Regions from separate parts of the Homo sapiens genome. Here regions 2, 3, 4 and 5 are each linked to region 1. Evidence: fine-mapped expression QTL. A gene starts in region 1. Each other region holds a variant in brackets. All regions are shown on one strand. Distances are from middle to middle.

Region 1 (6,268 bases):
ATTTATCGGACTTTGAGGGAAGGGAAGGAATTTCTTAGATCCTTACTTATTATAGGCTAGTCTTGCTTATTCTCAAATGGAGCTAGGGAGGAATGGGTAAAAACTAAGAAGACATTTCGTCCGATTTAGGAAATGTGTGTTTTGTTTTAGTTGAGGTATGTCTTATTTTGTAAGATACTGTATATATTTTTAAGTAATTATTTGAGAGCATTGTTACAGATATATCACTTTTTAGGGAAAGATTTTTTTTGCCCCAGTTTATAGCTATTTGGTTTAAAAATTTCATTTAATTTTCAGAATTTTTGCCAGACTCCTCTGCCCCAATAAAAGGCTCTAGATTAGGTGTATCTTAGGTGCTCCCCAAACCCCTGGCCACCCCATGCATACCTTTTCATTATTCACTGTTTAATTCTCTGTCTCCGAGTCTAGATCCTAAGTCTCCATGAGAGCAGGGACTATTCAATTTTGTCTACTGCGTATTTCCCAGTTCCTAGCTCAGTGTCTGGTGCTCAAAAAATGTTCTTCGATAAATAGATGATAATAATATTGAAATATTGTGTATATTTCTTTGATTTGTTAGTAACTACAAATAGTTTATTGTGTATATGTCAATTAGCAGAAGAAAAAGAGCAGTTGTGCTCTTTTTTATAAGCATTTTTAGGAGTTACTGTGCACCTTATTACAAGAAAAGTGGCCAGGAATGGTGGCTTACACCTGTAATCCCAGCACTTTGGGAGGCCAAGAAAGGCAGATCCCTTGTGACCAGGAGTTTGACAACCAGCCTGGGCAACATGGAGAAACCCCATCTCTACAAAACAAAACAAAACAAAACAAAACAAACAAAAAAATTAGCCAGGTGTGGTGGTGTGGGCCTGTAATTCCAGCTACTCGGGAGGTGGGAGAATCACCTGAGCCGGGGAAATCAAGATTACAGTGAGCCATGATTGTGCTACTCACTGCACTCTAGCCTAGGCAACAGAGTGAGACTCTGTCTCTAAAATAAAATAAATAAAATAAAATAAAAGCTTAGGCTATAAAAAACAAAATTTCTATTAACATGGTCTTACTAAATACATATTGTAGGCCGGGCGTGGTGGCTCATGCCTGTAATCCCAGCACTTTGGGAGGCTGAGGCGAGTGGATCACTTGAGGTCAGGTGTTCGAGACCAGCCTGGCCAACATGGTAAAACCCTGTCTCTACTAAAAATGCAAAAATTAGCCGGGCGTGGTGGCAGACACCTGTAATCCCAACTATTGCAGAGGCTGAGGCAGGAGAATCACTTGAACCTGGGAGGTGGAGGTTGCAGTGAGCTGAGATTGTGCCACTGCACTCCAGCCTGGGCGACAAGAGCAAAACTCCGTCTCAAAAAAATAAAATAAAATAAATAAATAAATAAAATACATATTGTGTTTTATGTTTAATAAAGGGAATACAGGGAAGCTTTCCCTTTTCCCTTGGAAGGTTCACTGAAAAATCAACTGTCAAATGGCAGACTAATAGGAAAAAAGACATACAAAATTTATTTTAATGTGCATAACACAGGGAGATTTCAGGAGAATGATTACCCAATGACTCAATGGGGTAGAGACGTTTATATACTCTTCTTTATGGGGGAAAGGGAGATTGGGGAAATGTGGCAACTTAAGGTATAGTAAAGGACTTTTAGGGGAAAATGGGGAACATACAATGGCCTGGGAAAAAGTGTGTTGAGCCCATACAGCAGACAATAGTTTGTGACAAAAGTCTGTCCAAGAGTGTTGACAGACTTCAGTCTTTCTTCCTCCAATATGAGTTAAGTAAATGAAAAATCAGGTAAGGCAAATATGTTCCTCTTTGGCAGGTCTAGTTTCTAGGCAGATAAGGGAAATTCAGAGAACGACATCATTTGGTGCTTTGGGAGAGACAAAGAATTGAGAGGCAGGAGGGGTAATGGGGAAGGTAAGAGACACCTTGAAGCTGCTTCCTCAGTTCAGCGCGGCAAAGCACCATATTTTGGGGTATCGATTTCTGAGTCCCAACAATTTTTACATCACGTTCCAGACACATTTTATGACTTTTCTTCACTGCATACTTCTTTAAAACTCATCTTACTCTATTTTTCTAAAGGTATTTGCATTAAATGTGCAAAATACTAATGCTCTAAAGAGGAATATTTTGAAATATTAAGAATTATTTATATTTCAATGTAAAAAATGTGATTTTTTTTCTAGAAATAAAATTTCAAATTCAAATAGTTGCTTTGGGGTTTTTATAGAAGATGCATATATATATACAGATATATATATGTTCATTTCTATTAAAATCAATGTGCTAATGTTCATATGTGTTAATATTAATAAAGGTCCTAGGATTAAATTTATTCTGAAATAGACTCCTAGGATTGTGAAAGTTTGAGGTTAGTCTGGCAAAAGACACATTTAGGGGAATATCTTTCTTTAAAAAAAATTTTGTTTTTTTGCTGTCTCTTGATCTCCCGCCTCACACATTCCACTTTATTGACATTATAGAAAAATTAATTCATTTCAACAGCACTTTTACTTGCATTGCTTTTTTTTTTTTTTTTTTTTTTTTTAGACGGAGTCTTGCTCTGTCGCCAGGCTGGAGTGCAATGGCACAATCTCAGCTCACTGCAACCTCCGACTCCCGGGTTCAAGCAATTCTCCTGCCTCAGCCTTGCGAATAGCTGGGATTGGTGGCACGCACAACCACGCCCAGCTAATTTTTGTATTTTTAGTACAGACGGAGTTTCACCATGTTGGCCAGGATGGTCTCGACTCCTGACCTCGTGATGCGCCCGCCTCAGCCTCCCAAAGTGCTGGGATTACAGGCGTGAGCCACCGCGCATGGCCACTTGCACTGCTTTTTAGCAGCGAGCTCTCAGGTCAATCAACTGCTTCCTTAGGTTTACAAACTGTGGGTGTGTATTTATAAACACAGTTGTTTTGTATATCCTTTGTAGAGCACGTGGTGAAAGTGACACAGGAATAAATGCAAACCTTTTTTTCCCCTTCTTTTTTCAAAGACATAAATCCCAGGAACACTCACAACCGCAGAAGGGGATTTGATGGACATACAAAGAAACTAAATTTTGTACCGCCGCAGAAGTGAAGCATGGATAAGCTCAAAGGTATTTAGGCAGTGTTTTATTTCAAGATTTGTTATGGGGACCTCCGCCACGCCCTGGTCCGCCTTCACCAGGCCGGGCAACACTGCCCAGTCCCTGAGACCCGGCCGCCCACTAGGGAGCCGCGGGGGCGAGGCCGTGGGGGTGGCCTCGGGGAGGAGGTCCCGAGAACCACACTTCCCAGAGTGCCGTGCGCAGCCCCGCCCAGCCCGCCCCGCCCCCAGAGGCCGCGGCTCGCGGGGGCTGAGGCGAGAGGACGCCAAGCGCCCGCCGGGGCTCCGCGGGGCCGCGCAGGAGAGCGCGCGTCCGCCGGGTGCTCGCGCGGGGTTGGTGAGGTTCCGCTGAGGGCGGCCGGGGCTCTGGGAGCGTGGTAACGTGGCTGCAACCTTAGCGACATCAGGAAGAACAGGGTCGAGGATCGAGGTAACGGGACGCTCGTCTCCCCTCAGTCCCCTCGTCTCCCCTCAGTCCCCTCTTCCTTTGTGCGGTGCCGTCCGCTCGCGCCGAGCCCTCCCTCACCCCAGCCCCCAAGTCGCAACACCGTCCCGTCTTGGGTCTCCGGTGTGCGGAGGAAATTCGAGCCCTCGTGCACCAACCGAAACTCCACAGCTGAGAGGGCTTGGGGCCCGGACAGCAGGAGATCCAGCCCCTGAGCAACCTTCCACGGCTTTTGTCGCCCCCATTGGCGGGAGGAGCAGGGTTATGCTCCCGGCTCCCGTAGGGGAGCTCCAGCCTCTGGCTCTGTCAGCCTCCCCGGCAGCTCCTTGACTCCTTCCTCCCAGTCTTTCGAAGAGGGGCCCAGGCAGGTGCTTCGCGGGGTCCAGGAAGAGGGCAGGCGCGGTGCGGCTGGCGCGGGTTCGGGGCCCCGGGAGGGCGGCCGGACGCCCCCTGGAGCCGCGGCCTGCGGGGGCGGGGCGAGTGGGCCACCTCCGGGCCACGCCGCGCGGGGACGAGGCGAGGAAGGCACTGCCTGTCCCCACTCGGGGGGCTTGCTGGCCGCCCTGGAGGTGCCTTCCCGGGAGCGGCGGTGTAGACCTTGTGGAGAGTGCCTCCTGATGTGGAACCAGGAACCGCAGCCTCTTTCTAGACGCTCAGCCGCCCGGTGGAGTTGTTACCGCCACGATGACAGCTCTTTACGCCTTCCACTCCGTGCTGGGTTCAGTTGGCTTGCTGTTTTCTTCAGAGAGAGCGATTTGGCTACATAGCTTGAATTTTCTACGTGTCTCGTGCTTTACTGGACTTGCACTGTTTTTCCCTCTTGGCAGTGTTTAATCGGGTGACTTTTCATAGAAAACGTTCAGTATTTTCATCTGTGTTAATGGCATAACTTTCTTCTTGACTCTGCCCTAAGCTAATGTTACCAGTTTAGAGGGATACTTTGGGAAAAGGTCCTTAGAACCTGGGTTGACATAAGTATTTTATCTGCTGGTTGCACGTTTTTTCCTTTGCATTGTTTTTCTCCTATACAAGATGGTAATTGTTGGACTCTTGGTGTTCTTTATTCTCTCTCTAGAAGGAAATCCTCTTCGCGCATCTTTCTCGTGTTCTGGCCCTGCGGTACTCTTGGGTACGCAGAGGACTGCTGCTAACAGTGCTGGCGCCTGGAACGCTGCTTGGAGATGGCGGTGGCATTAAGCTGCTGCTTTTCCTCAGACTTCCTCCTGGCACCCTTCTTAATTTGTCAAACTGACCCAGTTCAAACTTCAAACTTTTAGTCACTTTATTTATTTCGTCACTTTTTAAAAAAATTGCTTTCAAGATACCAAAATTGCGTAAGCCTAAATATAAAAAGAGGTGTCTCAGGGGCCGGGTGCAGTGGCTCACGCCTGTAATCCCAGCACTTTGGGAGATTGAGGCGGGGGGATCACTTGAGGTCAGGATTTTCGAGACCAGTCTGGCCAACATGGTGAAACCCCATCTCTACTAAAAATAACAAAAATTAGCTGAGCGTGGTGGCACATGCCTGTAGTCTCAGCTACTCGAGAGGCTAAGACAGGAGAATGGCTTGAACCCGGGAGGCGGAGGTTGCAGTGAACCGAGATCATGCCACTGCGCTCCAGCCTGGGCGACAGAGTGAGACTCCATCTCAAAAAAAGAAAAAAAAAGTCTAAGGATACTCTATTCAACTACATATGAGCACTTAGCTTCATCATTTTAATTTTTAAAGCTGCCAATTCTTTTAGCATTTGATAAGATTACTGATAATTGGTTAAGATGATATATTCTGTAATAATTGCACATTTTTTGACAAGAAACTCAGTTCACATTCAGTGAGGGTTATTTTTTAAAAACAGTATTTCTTCATTCATTAAGAAGAAAGTTAGGGCCGGGCGCGGTGGCTCACGCCTGTAATCCCAACACTTTGGGAGGCCGAGGCGGGCGGATCAAGAGGTCAGGAGATCAAGACCATCCTGGCCAACATGGTGAAACCCCATCTCTACTAAAAATACAAAAAAATTAGCTGGGCATGGTGGCGCATGCCTGTAGTCCCAGAGACACGAGAATCACTTGAACCTGGGAGGTGGAAGTGAGCTGAGATCACGCAGCTGCACTCCAGCCTGGCAATAGAACGAGACTCCATCTAAAAAAAAAAAAAAAGTTGGGTAAATTTTGATCCCACCTGCTATTTTGAAAAATGAATTTTCTTTTTTAGAGCAGTTGTAAGTTCACAACAAAACTGAGTGGAAGGTATAGAGATTTCCCATGTATCGCCTACCCCTACAGAGCCAAAATCTCTCATCAGAGTGGTACGTATATTACAATTGATGAACCTACATTGACATGTTATCACATCCACAGTTAGGATTCATTCTTGGTGTTAAACATTCTGTGGGTTTGGACAAATAACCCTTTTGTTTTTATCAAGAACTTTTGAGAGTTGTAGAGAACTGAAATGGATATTGTCATTTTAAAAAGATTAAAGAGACTATTGCAGACATCTTAAACATTAATTTCAGATAGTTTTTGTGTTTTATAAATTGAATGTTTAAATTTTTGGTTACTTATATTGGAATTCCCAAGAGTCACATTTATTTTTGTATATTAAGAACTAAAGGGCCCCACATGGTAGCTCACACCTGTAACTGCAATTTGGGAGGTCAAGGCAGGAGGATTGCTTGAGCCCAGGAGTTTGAGACCATCCT
Region 2 (5,000 bases), 99 kb after region 1:
TTTTTCTAAATAGAAAAGAATCCACAAAACATGCATATTTACATCAAATAATACAGAGATGATTTTTTATGAGGTTTCCTCCAACTTCTTTCGAAAGAACCATCCACTTAAACCCACTAGTTTATTGTTTGTATAAAATTCAAAATGGACTACTTAAAGCTTACTTTATTTTCTACTGAAAAATAAGTACAATGTTGAAAGGAAACCGTCTACAAAATCCCGTGTATTTTACAGAAAGGACTACAAAGATATATAACAACAATAGAAACAATTGCTCTGGGATTCTAGCTAACATTTTTTCCCCTCCACTGATTCAATTTTTTTAATACTGTCTTTATATCTCTCCATATACAGAAACATGTTTTTATTTTTCAAAAAACCCTGAAAAGACTGTAAATATTTTAGTGGGAGTAAGGAAAAGGGAATCTGTCACTATTGAATTTAAGTATCTCTAACTTGGTAGCTTGAAAGTAGGGTTAAAAAAAAGAAAAAAGAATTTAAGTACCTTCAAAGCATCCATTTATACCAACTAAAGTGCTAAATACATTTAATCACTAAAACAACACAGAATTCTTCCACGATGAAAGTCTTTCTTGCATTCTTGTGCCTCACTTGTTAGCACATACACCAGCTTTCTAAGGAGTCTGACATGCAGACTCCCTGACGGCCTCCTTCCCATGGCTCTGGGTTCAGGAGGAAGCCCACATACTGTCTAGCAGGTGGCAGGTAAGTGATGGGTGAGACCCTTCAATTAATTCTCATGTGCATTTAGAACGAAACTTCCTAAGTGTCAGGTCACCAAGTTAGAAATCTGGGACACCAGTCAATTTAGGACAATCCCTAACAAACCTGAAATCCTCTCTTAAAAAATAAAAAACTTCAAATTAACTGTGGGAGGTCCCAGTTTTCCTGTGTCTTCCTCTCCTCCCGAGTTTAAGAAAAATGAATAATTTAAGATGTGTAGGCTCCAAATCTGCCCAGACACCAATAAGCAGCCTGGCTCCACACAAAATAATAGAAAACAGAAAAAAAACAAAATTCCCTTCTCCTGGCATCCTACAAATCAGTGTGCCTGCATCTGCACATCCATCCAGCCCTTCACAGGCTCCTTTGGAAAAGACACTTTTATTCATTTATGCAGTGTCTTGTTTCAAAACGGCTTCCTTCAGAGTGGCTTACAAAGATACCTGTTTTTAATCTTGCGGCATGTGCACAAGTGAGAATGTTAAGAAGGGAAAATACAGGAGGAAGAAATAAATTAAGGCCAAGTGAAGGCTCGTACCCTCGGGAGGCTATCAGTTCTCACTGTCCTGCATGCTACCATCTGGCAGCTGCAGCCACAGCCACATCTAGGGAGCACCTGAACTTGAATGGTGTTAGTCTGAAATGACTTAGTAGAAAAAAGAGAATGTAATATTTTTATATTGATTTTTTTACTGATGTATAACAGACTTACATATTTTGGGAGTTGATTAAAGTAATCTTTTAGGTATACTGGATTAGATATAATTATTAAAATGTTAGGCTGGGCGCGGTGGCTCATGCCTGTAATCCCAGCACTTTGGGAGGCCAAGGTGGATGGATGACTTGAGGTCAGGAGTTCAAGACCAGTCTGGCCAACATTGTGAAACTCCATCTCTACTAAAAACATAAAAATTAGTCGAGTGTGGTGGTGCGTGCCTGTAGTCCCAGCTACTCAGGAAGCTGAGGCCAAGAATCACTAGAACCCAGGAGGTGGAGGGTGCAGTGAGCTGAGATTGCGCCACTGCACTCCAGCCTGGGCATCAGAATGAGACTGTCTCAAAAAGAATTTTTTTTTTTTTTTTTTTTTTTTTACTAATTTTCCATTTCCTCCCCTTTTATAGTTTTTAATGTGGTATTAGAAAAGTTTAAATTACATATGTGGCTTATATTCTATTTCTACTTGACAGCACAGTTCTTCACAGTTTGCTATAGACAATCTGAAAATTGGGTTCTGAACTACTAATCAGATTAGCCAATGCAAAGAAGGAATTATAAATATACTGCTTAGATAAGATAAAAACATATCAGCTACTCAGAAATGTAATAATTCATTAGAGAAGTTGGAAAAATGTACCTTGAAGGACTGAAAAGGGAGACAATATGAAATAAGCAACCGAGTTCTAAACCCACAAATGAAATGCAATAGGAAATTCTACACAGCTGTTTCTCCTGCAAGCATGGACCCATAGCAGATCCTGGAGCACAATTTAGAGTGGCCACATGCCAACAAGAAGCTTGCTGGGGCATTGCGACAGGGCTCTGCGCAGCATACAAACCTCCGTTCAACAACTCAGAGTGCTAACACTTGAGAGACAGTGAATAATGGTGGAGAGAAAAACAATCAATTGGAAATGATGGGGTTAAAATAGAACCTGACTTCTGGTACTGGTAACTCTCTTGTCAATCAAGCACCTAATTATGCCCAGGTTACCCTGTTACCAAACGGCCCAGTGAACTGTAGTGAGTTTTAGATGAAAGGCAGTATAGCCGGCCCAAGAAACATTACAAGACAGAAACTTTGTCTTTGAAAAGTCAAAATTTGCTAAAATATCCAGATCGATACTAAATTGAACATTAGGTACTAAAGTATACTTTTTTAAATGAAAGGTATTTCCAGGCAGTTAATGACACATTAAGG[C/T]CCCCAAGGCAAAACTAAGCATTAACAAGGCTACTTCTTAAAGAAAACACCAAAGTCTAGCAGTGAAATGAGAGCTGATTTTTGTTCATATAGTTTCATTTTGCTTAGGACATGCTGGTTGTGACTATAAGCCAATCTGGCAGACCTTATAGACCACACATGAAGATACAAGTCAGGGCAAATCAATCCTCACAGACTGGTTATAGCTCTGGCTGTGCCAATCGGTGACTCAAGTAGACAGCCAACAAGAGAGAATGCAGTGAGCACTAACTTCAGCGCCAGCATCTAACAACTGCATTGGCACTTACTGGAATAATATGCTTTATATTGATATTTAGCAACCTAGAAGCAGATAATATTCTATAAGCTGGTAGAAAGGAAGCCATCAAACTAAATAAAGCAAAAGTCCCCTTCTGCTGATTTTGCTTAACTGTTGAGATCAAGCCAGCGGGCATGAAGTTAGTGGTTTTTTGTACACTATGCACTTAGAACTTTGTCATCTTCTGTCTGGAACAGCCACAGAGGCTTCCCCAGAGTAGGCACTCGGTATTTGTCAGTTGGCACAGAAATTCAGCTTAACAGCTCAGGGACACAGCTGAGGGCACTGGATGCAGGACTGCATTACAACTTTAAGTGGATGGATGTAGGAAAGGGTCATTAACATGGGAGCCATGCAATATTGGGTGAGCAGAAATGCAGACCAAAATTCCAAGAACAAGACCTGCCGTAAAACAGGAGGCATGCTGTTCTTTAGATTTTTCTGGGTCAAGAAGCCATTCAGATGAGGTGATACTCTCTCTTCAGGAGGAAAAAGGAGTCCCTTTGCCCTGTGGTTTATCCCCAGGTCATCCCCACTTCAGGGAATCTGGCTTAAGGTCTGGGTTTCAGAAATTCTTTTTCTACTAGGTTAGTTGTCTCAAGGATGGTGCCTCACCTTCCACAAAGGGAGGCTGCCGGCTGACGAATTGGTCCTCACAGACTTGTTTGCTTTTCTTAACCTGTTGGGTCAGGCAGCCCTGATCATCTCTGCCAGATGCTGCTCCACCCACAGTGGAGCACAGGGCAAGAGTGAAGGCCATAAAAGGAAGACATGGGCTTGCAAGGGGCCAAGTCAGTTTCCGTCAGGGAAAGCCTCTCGGCAGGCTGCGCTGCCGTGCAGCCAGCTCACCAAGCAGACACTTGTAGGAAGCAGGGAAAAGGTGGCTTTTTCCAGAACTGACACTTATTTGGTGCCATAGAGATTCTAGCAGATGGAAAGATGTAGTGAACCAGGAGTTTGGCTGTGAAGGAAGATGGGAGCATCTGCAGGAGTAGCTAAAGTGGAGTAGGAATGTGTGTGGGCACTGAGTGGCAGTGGTGGGGGCCGTGGAGGAACCAAGCCGGGGCTGACGCGGTAACCACCTTATTCACCGGCAGCGCCAGAGCCAGTACGCCGACCTTGTGCGCCTCTTGAGAATCCTCCCAACAGACACTTGTACGGAGAAAACACATGTGAAAAAGAGGAAAGCTCACGGGACTGGGAGGAGGCAGCATGCCTGAGCTGCAGATCTATTTTTACTCAGCAGTCAAGCCATGTTAGTGCCTTTTTGGATCTCATCTATAAAAGGTGGCAGCTGATCAAGGGACCACTAAGGTTCTTTCCGCACCTAAATTCTAAGGCTCTATTATCCTCTTCCAAAAGGAAGCAAATGAGCTTGGTAGCACATGCAACACAGAAAACTGGAGAAGCAGTCTTTGGGGAAATTCAGGGACTTCCCTGTGATTCGCCTCGGAAGGAGATTCAATATGAAAAAGACACAAGGGACACCAATTCAAGTTTGTACCAAGATCAGGCCCAGGGACTTGCTGTGCAGACAGGTTATGTTCACTGGGGTGAGTGCTACAGAAAAGGGAAATTCATCCACTTGTTTTTCTCTTTGGTGAGGGAACGCATGATTCAGAACAGCCTAAGCTATCACATGCATATGGTTGTGGTGCTCTCCTCAGGGTAACTAACAGGCACGAAGAAATTTAGATGTAAGTGGCCTTAGTCAATCAGAAGGGATGAGCTTTCATTTTGAACGATAACTAGGGGTGCTGATCTGGAGCAATAACCCAAGAAAAGACAGTCAGATCTTGGATGGAAGGGAAGGACTGAACCAATCACTCCCTGCAATAAAACTGCATTTTCCTACTACACATCATAACTTCCCTTCCTCACTCTTCAAAACGCATAAATGATAGCACTGGAATGTCTTTCCCAAAAAAGTTGAAGTGTCTTGGTCAGCAAAGCGATTATTTAGAAAAAGTAAAAAAGATTTGAATGAATGCACCTCCTTATTCAGTTATTCATCTAAAT
Region 3 (6,268 bases), 31 kb after region 1:
GCTACGTACATAGGCTATATGGTATAGCTTGTTGTTGCTGGGATATAAGCCTGCGTAGCCTATTACCATACTGAAAACTGTATGCAGTTGTAACACAATGGTATTTATCTAAACATATCTAAACAGAAAAGGTACAGTAAAAAGTAGGCAAAGGACATGAACATATACTTCTCAAAAGAAGACCCACAAGTGGCCAACAAATACATGAAAAAATAACTCATCATCACCAGTCATTAGAAGAATGCAAACCAGAACCACAAAGAGATACCATCTCACATCAGTCAGAATGGCTTTTGTTAAAAAGTCAAAAAATAACAGATGTTGGCAAGGCTGTGGAGAGAAGGGAACACTTATACACTGTTGGTGGGAATGTAGATTAGTTCAGCCACTGTGGAGAGCAGTTTGGATACTTCTCAAAGAACTGAGACTTGAACTACCATTCAACCCAGCAATCCTCCTAGTGGGTATATACCCAGAGGAAAATAAATCATTCTATCAAAAAGACACATATACCCGCATGTTCATTGCAGTGCTATTCACAAATAGCAAAGATATGGAATCAGCCCAGGTGCCCATCAGTGGTGGATTGGATATGGAAAATGTGTTATATATACACTGTGGAATACTACACAACCATAGAAAAGAATGAAATCATGTTATTTGCAGCAACATACACGCAGCTGGAAACCATTATCCTAAGTGAACTAATAAAGAAGCAGAAAACCAAATACCACTTGTTCCCACTTGTAAGTGGGAACTAAATATTGAGTAAACATGGTCATGAAAATGGGAAAAATAGTGGTGGATACAATATGGGGGAAGGAGGGAAGGCGGTGGGGGTATGAATTGAAATAAACTGTTTATTTTATGTTGTGTATTATGCTCACTACCTGGGTTATAGATTCATTTATACACCAAACCTCAGCATGATGCAATATATCTATGCAACAGACCTACACATGCACCCCTAATTCTAAAGTAAAAGTTGAAAAAAGCAAAATATGTATATATATTTACAATAAAAGAAAAATATAAATTTAAAATAAAAATAAAACTGTAAGAATGAAGGAATAGTAAATTATTTTTTACTTTATAAGGGGAAAGGATTATAGGCTTATTTTATTATTTTGAGACAAGGTCTTGCTCTGTCACCCAGGCTGGAGTACAGTGATGCAGTCATGGGTCATGGCAACCTCCACCTCCTGGACCCAAACCCTACTCCACCCCCTGAGTAGCTGAGACTACAGGTGCACACCATCACACCCAGTTAATTTTTGCACTTTTTGTAGAGAGGGGGTTTGGCCATGTTGCCCAGGCTGGTCTTGAACTCCTGGACTCAAGCGATCTGTCTGCCTCAGCCTCCCAAACTGCTGGGATTACAGGCATGAGCCACCATGCCTGGCCTCTAGTAATTTAAAAAATATTTCCCTTTACATACAGCTTTTAAGAAGCACAATGTTATTTTATTTGTATATTATATATACACTCTTCACTATTCATTTTAAATACAAAGCAGATCTTGAGATATGTAGAAACCTAAGCCATCTTTAAAGTTGAGGATGTTCTTATTTATAAAGGTTTTCCTTTACATTCTGATTTCACTATTTTTGTAATTATAACTAAACTGTGATTTGTTATAACTCATGATCACAAATTGAGCATGTATCTGTACCTCATTAAAATTGTATTTAGACATTAAAAAGAAAAAGAAAAAGAGGCCACAGATAGCTGCTCTGTGCCTTCCACCATCTGAAGACACAAAGAAGAGTTGGCATCAGTGAACTTAGAGCAAGTCCTTACCAGACATGGATTTGCCAGTGCCTTGATCTTGAACTTTCTAGTCTCAAGAACTATGAGAAATAAATTATGTTGTTTATCAGCCACCCAGTGATAGTTTGTTATAGCAGCCTGAATAGACTAAACAGTAAGCTTTTTTTTTTTTTTTTAAAGACAGAGTCTCACTCTGTCACCCAGGCTGGAGTGCAATGGCACGATCTTGGCTCACTGCAACCTCTGCCTCCCGGGTTCAAGCGATTCTTCCACGTCAGCCCCCCGAGTAGCTGGGATTATAGGCACCCACCATCATGCTCAGCTAATTTTTGTATTTTTATAGAGATGGGGTTTCACCATGTTGGCCAGGCTGGTCTTGAACTCCTGACCTCAGGTGATCCGCCTACCTTGGCCTCCCAAAGTGCTGGGATTACAGGCATGAGCCACTGCCCCTGGCCAGTAGGTTATTTTTTATTTTGAAGTATCAAGATTATTATTACCTACAAAGTTATGCAACTGTATATCCACTATAATAGTATTTACAGTAATCAAAAAGTCATAATGTAAATGTCAAAACAACATTGAAATAGTAATGAATAATATACATGTAGAGTAAAAGATATTAAAGAAGATGCTTGCATAAGTTGCTAATGATGAATGTTAAAGTATATTAGAGTAGAAGGGCATTTTTCAACTGATATGGAAAATTTTCCTGTATATATAATGGTTAATAATACTAAGATAAAATTTTACTTTTTCTAAAATTCTTTTTTTTTTTTTTTTTTTTGAGATGGAGGCTCACTCTGTTGCCCAGGCTGGAGTGCAGTGGCACAATCTCAGCTCACTGCAACCTCTGCCTCCGAGGTTCAAGCGATTCTCCTGCCTCAGCCTCCCAAGTAGCTGGGACTACAGGCGCGTGCCACCATGCCCGGCTAATTTTTTTTTTTGTATTTTCAGTATAGACGGGGTTTCACCATGTTAGCCAGGATGGTCTCCATCTCCTGACCTCCTGATCCGCCCTCCTCGGTGGATCCCGCCCAAAGTGCTGGGATTACAGGCGTGAGCTGCGCCCGGCCTTTACTAAACTTTTTTAAGTGAAGTGGAGATAGTTTACAAAATAAATGTTAACTCTTTTTTTTTTCAATAGCAACAAAAGCACAGATTTATTGAAATGAAAGTACACTCCACAGAGTGGGAGCGGGCTCGAGCAAGTGGCACTCGAGCCATGATGAAGTCCTAACTAGTGGAGTTAGGAATGCTTTGTATGTTGATAGTCAAGTGCTTTACTAATCCAAAAGCCTTATTTTCATTGTATTTCCATTCATATTGGCTAATCTCTGGAAAATTACTCAAAGTTTTTATTAATAGTTGGTATTTCAAGCTTTTTAAACAAAAGTCTAAGGAATCATTTAATGAATGTTGATATTCTACATATTTTAATACTGAAGTGTGACATGATTTTTCCCTGAGTACTGTTAAGTTTAGCCTGAAGCTCCCACCTTATGTATTTTAAACTTGGCCTAAAAGTTTCTCTGTACACAGTAAACTGTAACCTAACTGGTTGTGTAAACAGACTGCAACCTACTCTTGTGCTAATCACTGAGGTTCAGCCAATTAAAGGCAACCAGTTGTTCAACCTGTGTTCAAGTAAGGCTGACCCTGAGCTGTAACTGACCCGTCTGTTTCTGTACCTCACTTCCGTTTTCTGTGTGTCACCTTCCTTTTTCTGTCCGTAAATAATTTTCGACTATGCACCAGCACCAGTGTCTTTGAACCTATTCTTGTTCCAGGACTGCCCAATTCTTGAATCCGTCTTTGCTCAGTTAAACTCCGTTAAATTTAATTGTCTAAGGTTTTTCTTTCGTAATACTATCTTGAATTAGTCACACGTTCACTGATCTAACAAAGAAAGAAT[G/A]TAAATTAGAAAATTAAGTAGTATCAGGGACATATAGTATTTATATAATTCTAAATACACGGTAATGTCTAATATTATGTAGCTTGTGTGTTTTTCATCCAATTTTAAACATCAGGTCTTTAGACTTTGATTCCTTTCATTTTCAAATTTCTAATGAAATGATTTTGGTAATTGGTAATTATTTTTTTGTACCAGAGAAAGAAAATGTACAAATAAACTTTCAGGAATGTAATTAACTATATAACATCAAAGGAGAATCAGTGCATTAAAAAGCCAAATTTTTGGCTGTTCCTATTTATACATGTGGCTTAAAGATCTTTATAAAATAAAGATGGATATTTATTCTAAAAGGGTACATAGGGGTGTATGTGTTAAATAGCCACATTTTAGTTTGTTTGAATCAAGACTCAAATGGAATTGTAAAGGGACAGAATCTTATTAAAAACAACATGAAAATGACTTGCCGGCCATTGATTTGTACAGCTTGGATGGCAAGTGTTAAAATAATGGTTATCTAGAAATTGTAGAACCCTATTTTATGATACTATTATGTAAGAGAGTGTTGGCAAGTTATTTAATGGAGCAGGTTTAAGTCATGTGAGACTTACAAATATTTGCATAGAAACTGAATCCCAGTGGTGGCATGTGGAAATAATTTTTTAAAGGATATGCTTAGGCTATTTAAAAGTTATTTAGTATCAGATTTCAGATCCCATTTTAGAGCTGACGTGAATTTGAAAACATGCCAAGCTTTATGTTATAGTCTACATTACAACTTTAGTCTCAATGGAATCTAAATACTGCCTTGTGAGTTCTGTGAAAAAATTTAATATAGCATAACAGACAGAAATGATTGTCTTGTACTTTCTGAAATAAGTGATACTGCTTCTTCCTCCACATTAGTGAAAAAAGACTGAGGAAGGGGCTTTTATAAGCAAAACCATTTATACATTTGAACACTCTAGGAGTTGTCATTTTAAAATTAGTTCTCAAATAATGAGATACAACTGTTTATTATATAATCAAAACACTACATGAAAACAGGAAAACTGTTAAAATAGTACTATAACTGTTACTTGTATTTGATTATTATAAACTCCTGGGAAAATGGGATAAATACTGTATTAAAAAGAAGATATCTTCCCACTCAGTACCAAAAACTTCCAGATGTAAGTAAAAATTTAAGTGTAAAACATAAAACCATAAAAGTAGTATAAAAAATACGTGAAGTAAATATAGAATATTAGAATGATTCCCATTTCTAGCAGGTACCTAAAACAATAAATAAAAAGACTTCATTTAATTACATAAAAATCCATAGGGTTTTTATATAAGAGAATAAAATTTGAAAGCAAACTAAAAGAGAAGTTTGAAATATATATGACAAATGCCTAATACTCTGATTATATGATGAGTACTTATAAATAAAAAATTTGTAGTTCATAGAAGAAATACAAATAGCTCAAAATTTATAAATGATTCAATCTTAAGAGCAAAAAAGAAAAAAAAAGATGAGATCTTTTTATTCATCAAATTGGCAACTATGGCCGGGCACAATGGCTCACACCTATAATCTTAGCACTTTTGGAGGCCGAGGCGGGAGGATTGCATGAGCTTAGGAGTTTGAGATCAACCTGGGCAGCATAGACTTTGTACAACAACAACAACAATAACAACACTCAAGATATGGTGCAAATACTGTAAGAAGCTCAGAAATGGACAGTTTGACATTATGTATTCACATATTCACATTGTATCCTTTGAAGCAGCATCTCTACTTACAATAATTTATCTGTTGGAATAATAGAGAATGTGAATAACGATTTAGTTACAAAGAAGTTCACTAGTGTGCTATTTGTAATAGCATACTGTTGGAAGCTATCTGATTTTTCAATAATTAAGGTGATGAGATTGCAGTGTTTTTTTTTTACTGCTTTTATGTGAGCTATATCATTTCAAGATAATGTAAATAGAAAATAAAAAAAAACCTCAGTTGAGCTCATAGTAAATACTACTAAATATTTACTCTCTGCTCCAGTTTTCTGATTGATAAATTGTGGATAATAATAGTACTTACTCATAGGGATGTTGGGACAACTGAGTTAGTATATGAAAAGCACTTAGAAGGCCAGGCTCTGTGGCTCATGCCTGTAATCCTAGCACTTTGGGAGGCCAAAGTGCGTGAATCACTTGAGCCCAGGAGTTTGAGACCAGCCTGGGCAGCATGGCAAAACCCTGTCCCTACTGAAAAATACAAAAATTAGCTGGGTGTGGTGGCACATGCCTGTAGTCCTAGCTGCTGGGGAGGCTAAGTTGGGGGATTGCTCGAGCCCAGCAGGTTGAGGCTGCAATGAGCCATGATCACGTCACTGCACTCCAGCCTGGGCAACAGGGTGAGACCCTATTTCAAAAAAAAAAAAAAAAGCACTTACAATAGTGGTTGGCATGTAATGAGTGCTAACTGATGTTTGCTGGTATTAATTCACAAAATGTCCCTGAAATATAACATAGAAAATCATGGTTTGTTGTGTGTATGTTACAGATACATATATAAAAGAGGCCGAGTGTGGTGGCTCACACTGG
Region 4 (6,268 bases), 350 kb after region 1:
TGATTATCAATTTTGGTTGAGGTGGCAGTGACAGATTTCTGGCGTGTTCTTTGTAGAGGATCTTGGTTGAAGACCGGAGGTCCAGTCACAAGTAACAAGCCACTAGCCAGCAGCTTCAGGAAAACCACCCTTTTGCCTCTGTGGTGCTCAGTGAGGGTGATCAGAATGGTCCCAGGGGTGATGCTGGCTCACAGTTTTCTCATGTGCTGACTGAACGGTTTTTTTGCCGTGGCTCAACAGCTTTTGAGGCACATCTTCAGTAGGATAATATCTAGGCATTTTGCGATGTTTAACCACCTGGGTACCACCGTTCTTGTCACCACCAACTGGTTTTGTAATAGTTGCAAGAACTTCTTTTTCTTTTCAACCTTGGATTCAGCAGCTGAGTGCTTCCTCTTGTACATGGCCTTTCTGGAATACATGGCTGATTGGGAATACCTGCCAATTCCTCTGACAAAGACAGGATTTCAGCTGCAATGGGGCTTCTCCCTCTTGGGCTTTTTAGTCTTGAGGCTGCCCCTTTTTACCTTGCCACCAGCATCAGCCTTCTTGGCTTCTGGTTTCTTCTCTTTAGGATCTGGCTTCTCAACCTTTTCACCCACCATCTTGCAAGATGGGAAAGAGAACTCAGCATAGAAATTTAATAGTGAATTATTGGAATTTATGGAATCTTTTTGTTTTCAGTTGACAAAGTGTATTAAAATTTTATCCGTGAAAACATTTTATCTAATAACAAAGAAAAAACAGAAGAAAGAAAAAAATTAACAAGAATTTATTATGTACTTGAAACTCTTCTAGGCATTCTATTTATATTCTTTAGTCCTTACCACAACTGCAAGGGAGAAAGGGGCAAGAAAGAGGAGAGCAGAGTTCTAACATCAGGAGGAGAAGAAAGTCTGGGGCTGGGGCTGGGCCAGACTCTTGATGAGGCAGGACCTACGCCATCAGTTGACAGAGCAGCAAGAATGGAGGGAAAAAGGCTCCCCTTTGCTCATTGTCTGTATCTCAGGATCTTGCTTTCCCTAGGACAGAGGTTTCTCTAACCTCTTTTCACCTTTTTATTTTATTTAGAAATACGGTCTTGCTTTGTTGCTCAGGCTGGAGTGCAGTGGCACCATCATAGCTCACTGCAGCTTCAAATTCGTGGCCTCAACTGATCCTCCTGCTTTGGCCTCCCAAAGTGCTGAGATTACAGGCATGAGCCACTGTACATAATATACTCTTTTCATTGTAGTTCTAAGAACAGTTATCTTCTTTCCCATTCCAGTAAATGGCACCATTTTTATTCCATTGCTTAGGCCAGAAACCCAGGGGGTCATCTGTGATTCCTCCAGGTCCTTCATCTCCTCTTTGGTCCAATCTATTGGCAAGTATCATGGGCTCTACCTCCTGAATATATTCCACATGTATCAATTTCTCTCTTACCTCTATCATCCTCACCCTAGTCTCCATCATCTCTTGTTTGGAATATGGAGAAGGCCTCTTAACTGACCTCCTTGCTTTCATTTTTGACTTTCCTATAGTCTGTCCTCAACAGCCAAAGTGATCTTTTAAAAATGGCAGTCATGTTATTGCCAAAAAGATCCTGTCACTTCCCTGAGTAATGCCCTTCCCCACGGCCTACCAGGCCCTGTGCTTTTTTTTTTTTTTAATTAATTAATTAATTATTATTATACTTTAAGTTTTAGGGTACATGTGCACAATGTGCAGGTTAGTCACATATGCATACATGTGCCATGCTGGTGCGCTGCACCCACCAGCTTGTCATCTAGCATTAGGTATATCTCCCAATGCTATCCCTCCCCCCTCCCCCCACCCCACAACAGTCCCCAGAGTGTGATGTTCCCCTTCCTGTGTCCATGTGTTCTCATTGTTCAATTCCCACCTATGAGTGAGAATATGCAGTGTTTGGTTTTTTGTTCTTGTGATAGTTTACTGAGAATGATGATTTCCAATTTCATCCATGTCCCTACAAAGGACATGAACTCATCATTTTTTATGGCTGCATAGTATTCCATGGTGCATATGTGCCACATTTTCTTAATCCAGTCTATCATTGTTGGACATTTGGGTTGGTTCCAAGTCTTTGCTATTGTGAATAATGCCACAATAAACATACGTGTGCATGTGTCTTTATAGCAGCATGATTTATAGTCCTTTGGGTATATACCCAGTAATGGGATGGCTGGGTCAAATGGTATTTCTAGTTCTAGATCCCTGAGGAATCACCACACCGACTTTCACAATGGTTGAACTAGTTTACAGTCCCACCAACAGTGTAAAAGTGTTCCTATTTCTCCACATCCTCTCCAGCACCTGTTGTTTCCTGACTTTTTAATGATTGCCATTCTAACTGGTGTGAGATGGTATCTCATTGTGGTTTTGATTTGCATTTCTCTGATGGCCAGTGATGATGCACATTTTTTCATGTGCCTGTTGGCTGCATAAATGTCTTCTTTTGAGAAGTGTCTGTTCATGTCCTTTGCCCACTTTTTGATGGGGTTGTTTTTTTCTTGTAAATTTGAGTTCATTGTAGATTCTGGATATTAGCCCTTTGTCAGATGAGTAGGTTGTGAAAATTTTCTCCCATTTTGTAGGTTGCCTGTTCAGTCTGAGGGTACTTTCTTTTGCTGTGCAGAAGCTCTTTAGTTTAATTAGATCCCATTTGTCAATTTTGGCTTTTGTTGCCATTGCTTTTGGTGTTATAGACATGAAGTCCTTGCCCATGCCTATGTCCTGAATGGTAATGCCTAGGTTTTCTTCTAGGGTTTTTATGGTTTTAGGTCTAACGTTTAAGTCTTTAATCCATCTTGAATTGATTTTTGTATAAGGTGTAAGCAAGGGATCCAGTTTCAGCTTTCTACATATGGCTAGCCAGTTTTCCCAGCACCATTTATTAAATAGGGAATCCTTTCCCCATTGCTTGTTTTTGTCAGGTTTGTCAAAGATCAGATAGTTGTAGATATGCGGCATTATTTCTGAGGGCTCTGTTCTGTTCCATTGATCTATATTTCTGTTTTGGTACCAGTACCATGCTGTTTTGGTTACTGTAGCCTTGTAGTATAGTTTGAAGTCAGGTAGCGTGATGCCTCCAGCTTTGTTCTTTTGGCTTAGTATTGACTTGGCGATGCGGGCTCTTTTTGGGTTCCATATGAACTTTAAAGTAGTTTTTTCCAATTCTGTGAAGAAAGTCATTTGTAGCTGGATGGGAATTGCATTGAATCTGTAAATTACCTTGAGCAGTATGGCCATTTTCACGATATTGATTCTTCCTACCCATGAGCATGGAATGTTCTTCCATTTGTTTGTTTCCTCTTCTATTTCGTTGAGTAGTGGTTTGTAGTTCTCCTTGAAGAGGTCCTTCACATCCCTTGTAAGTTGGATTCCTATGTATTTTATTCTCTT[T/G]GAAGCAATTGTGAATGGGAGTTCACTCATGATTTGGCTCTCTGTTTGTCTGTTGTTGGTGTATAAGAATGCTTATGATTTTTGTACATTGATTTTGTATCCTGAGACTTTGCTGAAGTTGCTTATCAGCTTAAGGAGATTTTGGGCTGAGACAATGGGGTTTTCTAGATATACAATCATGTCGTCTGCAAACAGGGACAATTTGACTTCCTCTTTTCCTAACTGAATACCCTTTATTTCCTTCTCCTGCCTAATTGCCCTGGCCAGAACTTCCAACACTATGTTGAATAGGAGTGGTGAGAGAGGGCGTCCCTGTCTTGTGCCAGTTTTCAAAGGGAATGCTTCCAGTTTTGCCCATTCAGTATGATATTGGCTGTGGATTTGTCATAGATAGCTCTTATTATTTTGAGATATGTCCCATCAATACCTAATTTATTGAGAGTTTTTAGCATGAAGGGTTGTTGAATTTTGTCGAAGGCCTTTTCTGCATCTATTGGGATAATCATGTGGTTTTTGTGTTTGGGTCTGTTTATATGCTGGATTACATTTATTGATTTGCTTATATTGAACCAGCCTTGCATCCCAGGGATGAAGCCCACTTGATCATGGTGGATAAGCTTTTTGATGTGCTGCTGGATTCAGTTTGCCAGTATTTTATTGAGGATTTTTGCATTAATGTTCATCAAAGATATTTGTCTAAAATTCTCTTTTTTGGTTGTGTCTCTGCCCGGCTTTGGTATCAGGATGATGCTGGCCTCATAAAATGAGTTAGGGAGGATTCCCTCTTTTTCTGTTGATTGGAATAGTTTCAGAAGGAATGGTACCAGTTCCTCCTTGTACCTCTTGTAGAATTCGGCTGTGAATCCATCTGGTCCTGGACTCCTTTTGGTTGGTAAGCTATTGATGATTGCCACAATTTCAGATCCTGTTATTGGTCTATTCAGAGATTCAACTTCTTCCTGGTTTAGTCTTGGGAGAGTGTATGTGTCGAGGAATTTATCCATTTCTTCTAGATTTTCTAGTTTATTTGCATAGAGGTATTTGTAGTATTCTCTGATGGTAGTTTGTATTTCTGTGGGATCGGTGGTGATATCCCCTTTATCATTTTTTAGTGCGTCTATTTGATTCTTCTCTCTTTTTTTCTTTATTAGTCTTGCTAGCGGTCTATCAATTTTGTTGATCCTTTCAAAAAACCAGCTCCTGGATTCATTAATTTTTTGAAGGGTTTTTTGTCTCTATTTCCTTCAGTTCTGCTCTGATCTTAGTTATTTCTTGCCTTCTGCTAGCTTTTGAATGTGTTTGCTCTTGCTTTTCTAGTTCTTTTAATTGTGATGTTAGGGTGTCAATTTTGGATCTTTCCTGCTTTCTCTTGTGGGCATTTAGTGCTATAAATTTCCCTCTACACACTGCTTTGAATGCGTCCCAGAGATTCTGGTATGTTGTGTCTTTGTTCTCGTTGGTTTCAAAGAACATCTTTATTTCTGCCTTCATTTCATTATGTACCCAGTATTCATTCAGGAGCAGGTTGTTCAGTTTCCATGTAGTTGAGCGGTTTTGAGTGAGATTCTTAATCCTGAGTTCTAGTTTGATTGCACTGTGGTCTGAGAGATAGTTTGTTATAATTTCTGTTCTTTTACATTTGCTGAGGAGTGCTTTACTTCCAAGTATGTGGTCAATTTTGGAATAGGTGTGGTGTGGTGCTGAAAAAAATGTATATTCTGTTGATTTGGGGTGGAGAGTTCTGTAGATGTCTATTAGGTCCGCTTGGTGCAGAGCTGAGTTCAATTCCTGGGTATGCTTGTTGACTTTCTGTCTCGTTGATCTGTCTAAAGTTGACAGTGGGGTGTTAAAGTCTCCCATTATTAATGTGTGGGAGTCTAAGTCTCTTTGTAGGTCACTCAGGACTTGCTTTATGAATCTGGGTGCTCCTGTATTGGGTGCATATATATTTAGGATAGTTAGCTCTTCTTGTTGAATTGATCCCTTTACCATTATGTAATGGCCTTCTTTGTCTCTTTTGATCTTTGTTGGTTTAAAGTCTGTTTTATCAGAGACTAGGATTGCAACCCCTGCCTTTTTTTGTTTTCCATTTGCTTGGTAGATCTTCCTCCATCCTTTTATTTTAAGCCTATGTGTGTCTCTGCACGTGAGTTGGGTTTCCTGAATACAGCACACTGATGGGTCTTGACTCTTTATCCAATTTGCCAGTCTGTGTCTTTTAATTGGAGCATTTAGTCCATTTACATTTAAAGTTAATATTGTGATGTGTGAATTTGATCCTGTCATTACGATGTTAGCTGGTTATTTTGCTCGTTAGTTGATGCAGTTTCTTCCTAGTCTCGATGGTCTTTACATTTTGGCATGATTTTGCAGCAGCTGGTACCGGTTGTTCCTTTCCATGTTTAGTGCTTCCTTCAGGAGCTCTTTTAGGGCAGGCCTGGTGGTGACAAAATCTCTCAGCATTTGCTTGTCTGTAAAGTATTTTATTTCTCCTTCACTTATGAAGCTAAGTTTGGCTGGATATGAAATTCTGGGTTGAAAATTCTTTTCTTTAAGAATGTTGAATATTGGCCCCCACTCTCTTCTGGCTTGTAGAATTTCTGCCAAGAGATCTGCTGTTAGTCTGATGGGCTTCCCTTTGAGGGTAACCCGACCTTTCTCTCTGGCTGCCCTTAACATTTTTTCCTTCATTTCAACTTTGGTGAATCTGACAATTATGTGTCTTGGAGTTGCTCTTCTCGAGGAGTATCTTTGTGGTGTTCTCTGTATTTCCTGAATCTGAATGTTGGCCTGCCTTGCTAGATTGGGGAAGTTCTCCTGGATAATATCCTGCAGAGTGTTTTCCAACTTGGTTCCATTCTCC
Region 5 (6,184 bases), 590 kb after region 1:
TGTTTTTTAAGTACCCAATACTGAAACAACAACAACAACAGCAGCAGCAGCAGCAGCTTACCTTTTCTGAATAATTCTTGGAGACTTTCAGCACTTTGATTTAATACAGCCCATATTTCTTCCTCCTGAAGTGGTCCACCCCGAACCTCCAGGGCCTCAGCTAGTGACACGTGCATATTACCTGGGAAACAAAGGTAACAGATGGTCTATGCATCAGCAACTTAACTATACTTGCAGTAGTAAAAGCTCTACATCAGTGATGACAGACTATAAGCCCCCTGTCTACCTAATTTCTCAATATGGCTACCAATCTAAATGTTATCTTAAACTCACAGAAGGTAAAGGAATTGGAGGGAAAAACCCTCAAAACAACCACTTGCCCTAGCCCAACACGGTCAACTTCAGAGACAGAACTGGAGAATGGGGGTGGTGACTGCTTTACGGAAAAAGGAAGAGACCCCAGGGTACTAGGAGGCACCAAAATACAGATCATAAACCAAAGCAGTCAGACTGAACTGAAGGCCTTTCAGATTTCTGTTCCAGGTTTCATCCTATCCATCCCAGATATAAAAGTAGAGAGAAATAGAGAGGAGAACCTACAGCCATGGTAGGGGAAGTTGGGAATAAGATGGAACACATTTCTTTCATTCTTTAGTTGATTTCTATTATCTCCAATATATATACTATAACTGTATATTTTGCACTAAATGCAATTAAGTATTTCCAGACCCAGCTTTGTTGGCAACTCACCATTTTCCCTGGGAGAGTCACTTTTCCTTTAAACCTCTGTTTCCCTATTGTAACACAGGAATGATAGTAACAATAAAAATGTCATTTTGGGTGGCTATGACAAGGGAAGTGGCTATGCTTGTGAACATGCTTTGATATATGATTCTACAGAAGGTGAATTAATAAAAGATCAGATAAGTGTCTGTGCTGAAATTTTTGTCAGGTCAATTTTTCCAATGGCGTTCAGTTAAGTGATGATATACTGATAAAACTTAAGATTTTCTATGGGGCTTAATAAGCCTATTTTCATGTTAAAAGAGGAAAATGTAACTAGTTAAAATCCTTCTATATAAATTTTCCTAAATTGACACAGCTTGAAAATTGTTCTTTAGAGTGATTCATAAGATTTCTACCCAGACAAAACCAATTTAAGCATAACATATATAGTATATTTCTACTGTAAGGGAGAAGCAGATTTGGAAAAGAAGCCAAATAAGGAGTTTAAAAGTTAACCTATAAAAACATCTGTTTTAGATAAAAGTTGACTTTGTTTACTCAACTAACAAGACAAGCTACTATTTTCTTTTAATTTACATTTATGGTACTTAATCCTGACTGAAAAAAGCAATTCCAACTATAAATGAGGCCAGTCTTGTCCTTTCACTTTCCTTTTTAAATGTTTACTAAAACATTTTATGCTTAAAGTCTGCCTCCAGGGTGTCTACTTATATACACAATGTGAAAGTTAAAAGGAAACTATAAGATACTGCTTTAAAAAAGCCAAAAGCGTTTTTACTTAGGTTGTACAAGAAGTGCGATTATTTATTTAGATCCCCTGCCTGCACCAAAGTCTCTAGGTTCTCATTGACTTTATTATATAATAGCATATTTATTCAAGAGAAAAAAGTAGAAGCTTCATTCCTTTCTAAAGATATGTGAGTTATCTTCTACATGAAAAATATTGATAAATTGGAAGTTTCAACAGAGGGATCAGATAATATTAGCAATCAGATACCAACATGACTTGTGTGAAGGACTACCCTGTAGCAAATTTCCAAAGTAATATGTCTGAGAACTGGTTAGATAGCTCTAACGCATATACTCAGGGTATAAAGAGTAGAGCAAAGATAGAACAAGAATTTCTTTGAAGAGAGTTGTGTGCTGATTTTCATGTCTCCTCCAAAGTGGGAGGGATGTGGAAAGGTGCCTTCCTTTCACCTCAAGCCAGTGAAAGAAGCTTTAATGGGACCCCTGGGAGTCCTTGATATATGTTCTCTGGAGTTAGTGGAGGGCACATCAGGCAGTGCCTAATACACACTTTAGGAATCTAAAGGTGTTGCCTATCACTCTGAGGCAGCAACATGAGGTAGACAGGAGAGGGAGGGCACACAAGAGTGAGGAGACATACTGTATCAGAAGCCAGCTATACTTCCACTGCTCAGGGTAAGAGAGGGGCAAGGAAGCACGGCCACACAGAGGGCCAGCTTGGACCTATATGAAATCCTACCCAGAGGATTAAAATGTCCTAAAATTTAGATAGTGGCAATGGTTGCACAAAAATTCTAAAAATAACTAAAGGTACACTTTATAAGGGTGAAGGCTGAGCATAGTGGCTTAAGCCTGTAATCCCAGCAATTTGGGAGGCTAAGGTAGGAGGATCGCTTCAGGCCAGAAGTTCAAAACCAGCCTGGACAACATGGGGAGACCCTCATCTCTACAAAAAATAAAATCAGCCGGGCATGGTGGTGCCTACTGTAGTCCTACCTATTAAGGAGGCTGAAAAGGGAGGCTCGCTTGAGCCCAGGAGTCTGAGGTTACAGTGAGCTATGATCATGCTTCTGTACTCCAGCCTGGTTGACAGAGTGAGACCGTTTCTAAAAAACTAAAAAGAATTTTTTTAAAGGGTAAGTTTTATTGTATGTGAAGTATATCTCGAAAAGCTGTTTAAAAAATTCTACCCAGAGTTCCACCTGAAGTACCCAGACCACCACCAAGAAAAAGGAAGAAGGGAGGAGGCGCAGGGGGAGGAGGGGAAAAGGAGAGAAGGGAAAGAA[G/A]AGGAGAAAGAGAAAGAAGAAGGATTCAAATTAGAATTATTTCTACTGTGGAATGGCCTGAAAGAAAACTAGGCTGAGGGCTAGAGGGGTTAGGGGTTACTGGCTAGTTGGAGGGAAAAATTCTGGAGTGTCACATGTAGTGTAGTTCCAGTGAAGGATTGTGAAGAACCCACAAAAGCACACCGAAGAAAAAGGGCCAGCCTTAAACACATATCAAGTTCAAAAACAGTAAAGCAATTTCACAACAGGAGTGTGGGAAAAACAACAACAAAAACTGTTTGCCTTGCTTTCTCTCTTCCTTCCCCTGGTTTAGATCCTGATGGGGTCAGATATAGCAACTTGCCAGTGGGTGAGGAGATAAGCAACAAAAAGAGAAGCTAATCACACTGTCTTCCATCTATAGATAATCTTAGCTAGGGAAGGGAAAAGTTTTAGCTCTGAATGGACATTGAAAGGTTGATTAATATACTGACTAGGTACTTTTAATTATGGAGTTTAAGTGACTGTAGTCATTAGTATTACCAAAGGGCAAGGAGGGAATTATGAATCTGGGTTTTTATATAGAGGCAGAACTTCCTCTGGTGATATAAGGAAGGATGGAAGGACAAAAGGAAGGAGAACAAAATTAGGTTGCTTATGATGATATGTTATGTATCCCATTGTAAAACCAGTATGTTGGCTTTATACATACATACACACATATATTTATGTGTATATATAGAGAGCACAAGAGACAGACTAGGTTTTAAATCTTAAGATACTGTTTTTCCTTACTTTTTAAAAATAAATTGGGTTTTAAAATATAATTATTCCCTATAAATAAAAAAATGAAAAGGTTAAAAGTAACTTCTCACACAATAGAATTTTTTCAGCAATTAATTTTTCTAGCTACAAAGATTGCTAATTATACCTCTGTTGCTTGATTGAATCGGGTACGAATTATATCAATACCGTGTTAATTTTTATTTAAACTTTTTTTGTATATTCAATATGGGATCTTTATGAACATTTCTGGTTAGAACTTCTTAGAACTCCAAAACATAGAAAGGAACATTTGTTTTTCAAAGTTATCATCAAGCTATCAGAATAGATTTAATATTTTTAATTTACAGCTTTGCTAGGCAAGAACTTAAAGATTTTTTTAAAACTGCCTCATTCTAATTACCCAATGTCAGAATTTAATGTAGTATTACAGCAGCTTTCTAGAAAACAAACAACAAAGCTATCAGCTTATAAATTGCCTACTAGCACCATCTTTCTCTCTCACATGTTTATTTTACTGTTATAGCACTTCAGATCATTAGCTCCGAAGATAACAAGGGAATGAAAGAAATGCAGAAGCTGAAGAGGAATGCAAAAAAGAAAAAAGAAAATGGAGGGAAAAAAGCTTGAAGTCAACCAACAGATGAGGACAGAATTAGTTACAAAAATTTTTTAAAGCCTATTGCTTCAATTGTTTCCTTTAGACACAGTACTAGGTAACTTGGGAGTACAGATATATAACAGACGTTATCACATTAACCTATCACAAAGGTTAAATTTTACAATAAACATAGCCATATTATTTACTTTTATTCTCTTGAAGGTTATATGCTGCATGATAACTAGAAAGTTTTTGGAAAAAAATTTCAAATAAGAAAAATTAATTCTATCACATAACCAGAATCATTATTATGTTTTTGGTTAACACAGGTATTACTGACATGACCTTAAAACTGCTCACAGAGACAAAGCCACAAGGAGATTCTAACAGATGTCATTTTAATCCTGAAGGATTGTGGCACGCACAGCTAGTACATACCAGTGATTGAGAACAGAATGAACAGTAAACAGATTAACTAAATCCAATCAAGTGATAAAATAACCTGTCTGGAGACAGATTAATTAGGAATGTTTAACTTGAATCTAAAGAAATAGGGCTAATAGAAACATGCTGTTTCAAGAACAAAGCAGCTATAAAATGGAGCTCTGTGTATGCCACTAGTTTGAGCAAGGATTCACTCACCATCCAGGCTAAGGACATCTTTGGTCATTAAAAAACCACAGTGAGTTGAGAAGGCAACCCCAAAATTGTAAGCATCTTTTCATCCAGGAAGATTCAGAATTAAGTATAGAAAAGTTTGAGACACAGCCCATATATTAGTATTTTTTAAAATTAAAGAATCTGTACATATATAGTATCTTAGCTAGGAGAAATAGGTGAGTTAGAATAACAGATTCGCATGGTGATTCCAATTTAAATAGTGTAATGAGAAAATGGTTGAGGCTTGTATTTTAAAACATACAAAATGCCACTGGAACATACAAGAGACCCTTAAAGGCTTGCTATACATAAGTCTTACTATATAAGTTTTCATTCATTAGAAGACTTATTTGGGTACTTGGGAAGGTTTTTTCTGTCAGTCAGATACAAGAAATACTTTAAAAATTGGCTTTTAATTGTATGAATGCAGTTTAAAGTGTTTATGGGATGTTAACTGACTAAATTTGAAAATGAGATTATACACTCAAAGGGTCCCTTGAAATTTTCTGCATGTATAAATAGAAAAAATAATTAAATTGACCTTAAAAGCTTAAGAACTATGGCCAGGTGCAGTGACTTATGCCTGTAATCCCAGCACTTTGGGAGGCCAAGGTGAGAGGATCACTTGAGTCCAGGGGTTCAAGACTGCCTGGGCAATACAGCGATACCTCGTCTCTATATATAATAATGCTTTTTAAAAAAATTAGCTGAACATGATGGTGCGTGCCTGTAGTCCCAGCTACCTGAGAGGTTGAGATGGGAGGATTGCTTGAGCCTGGGAGGTGGAGACTGCAATGCTATAATTGCACCACTCCACTCCAGCCTGGGCAACAGAGCAAGACCCCATTAAAAAAAAAGTAAGACATAGGTTTTAGAATTTTTAATGTAATAAGAATGTTCATTTAAAAATAATTTTCAATAAGCTTTTCTGCACACAATAAGGTCTTGAAGGCCATTAAAAAGTTAGGAGAAAATTATGGTGACTTCAGTTAGCCAATGTTTTTGTAGATATGAAAACAAATGCATGACCCAGATTAGAAAAACAAAATTGATAAACTGGAATTCATCAAAATTAAACATCTTTGCTATTTGAAAAGAAAGAACTGTTAAAAAATGAACCACAGTCCCACCAACAGTGTAAAAGTGTTCCTATTTCTCCACATCCTCTCCAGCACCTGTTGTTTCCTGACTTTTTAATGATTGCCATTCTAACTGGTGTGAGATGATATCTCATAGTGGTTTTGATTTGCATTTCTCTGATGGCCAGTGATGATGAGCATTTCTTCATGTGTTTTTTGGCTGCATAAATGTCTTCTTTTGAGAAGTGTCTGTTCATGTCCTTCGCCCACTTTTTGATGGGGTTGTTTGTTTTTTTCTT

The links. PIP is the estimated chance that this variant, and not a neighbour inherited with it, causes the effect.
Region 2: its variant is the best candidate, but not a certain one, in a credible set for the expression of KLHL8 in whole blood (TOPMed, PIP 0.72).
Region 3: its variant is the best candidate, but not a certain one, in a credible set for the expression of KLHL8 in whole blood (INTERVAL, PIP 0.73).
Region 4: its variant is the best candidate, but not a certain one, in a credible set for the expression of KLHL8 in whole blood (TOPMed, PIP 0.67).
Region 5: its variant is the best candidate, but not a certain one, in a credible set for the expression of KLHL8 in whole blood (INTERVAL, PIP 0.78).

The regions. Positions count from the first base shown.
Region 1 is chr4:87,217,698-87,223,965 of GRCh38, reverse strand. It overlaps KLHL8 (kelch like family member 8), which reads left to right and starts at 3,348. Exons shown (of 10, transcript NM_020803.5): 1 at 3,348-3,548. RefSeq lists silencers at 3,129-3,618, 3,959-4,228 and an enhancer at 3,734-4,346.
Region 2 is chr4:87,119,717-87,124,716 of GRCh38, reverse strand. The region is part of intron 12 of AFF1 (ALF transcription elongation factor 1); the gene reads right to left. Among named protein-coding and RNA genes, the nearest start is that of KLHL8, 98 kb to the left of the region's middle. RefSeq lists an enhancer at 4,011-4,586. The variant C/T (reference allele first, on the strand shown) is at 2,663.
Region 3 is chr4:87,186,323-87,192,590 of GRCh38, reverse strand. The region is part of intron 2 of KLHL8 (kelch like family member 8); the gene reads left to right. Among named protein-coding and RNA genes, the nearest start is that of KLHL8, 31 kb to the left of the region's middle. The variant G/A (reference allele first, on the strand shown) is at 3,686.
Region 4 is chr4:86,864,528-86,870,795 of GRCh38, reverse strand. It overlaps the pseudogene RPL6P13. Among named protein-coding and RNA genes, the nearest start is that of SLC10A6, 18 kb to the right of the region's middle. The variant T/G (reference allele first, on the strand shown) is at 3,406.
Region 5 is chr4:86,629,249-86,635,432 of GRCh38, reverse strand. PTPN13 (protein tyrosine phosphatase non-receptor type 13) reads right to left here. Exons shown (of 48, transcript NM_080683.3): 2 at 62-181. The coding sequence starts at 176. Among named protein-coding and RNA genes, the nearest start is that of PTPN13, 38 kb to the right of the region's middle. The variant G/A (reference allele first, on the strand shown) is at 2,784.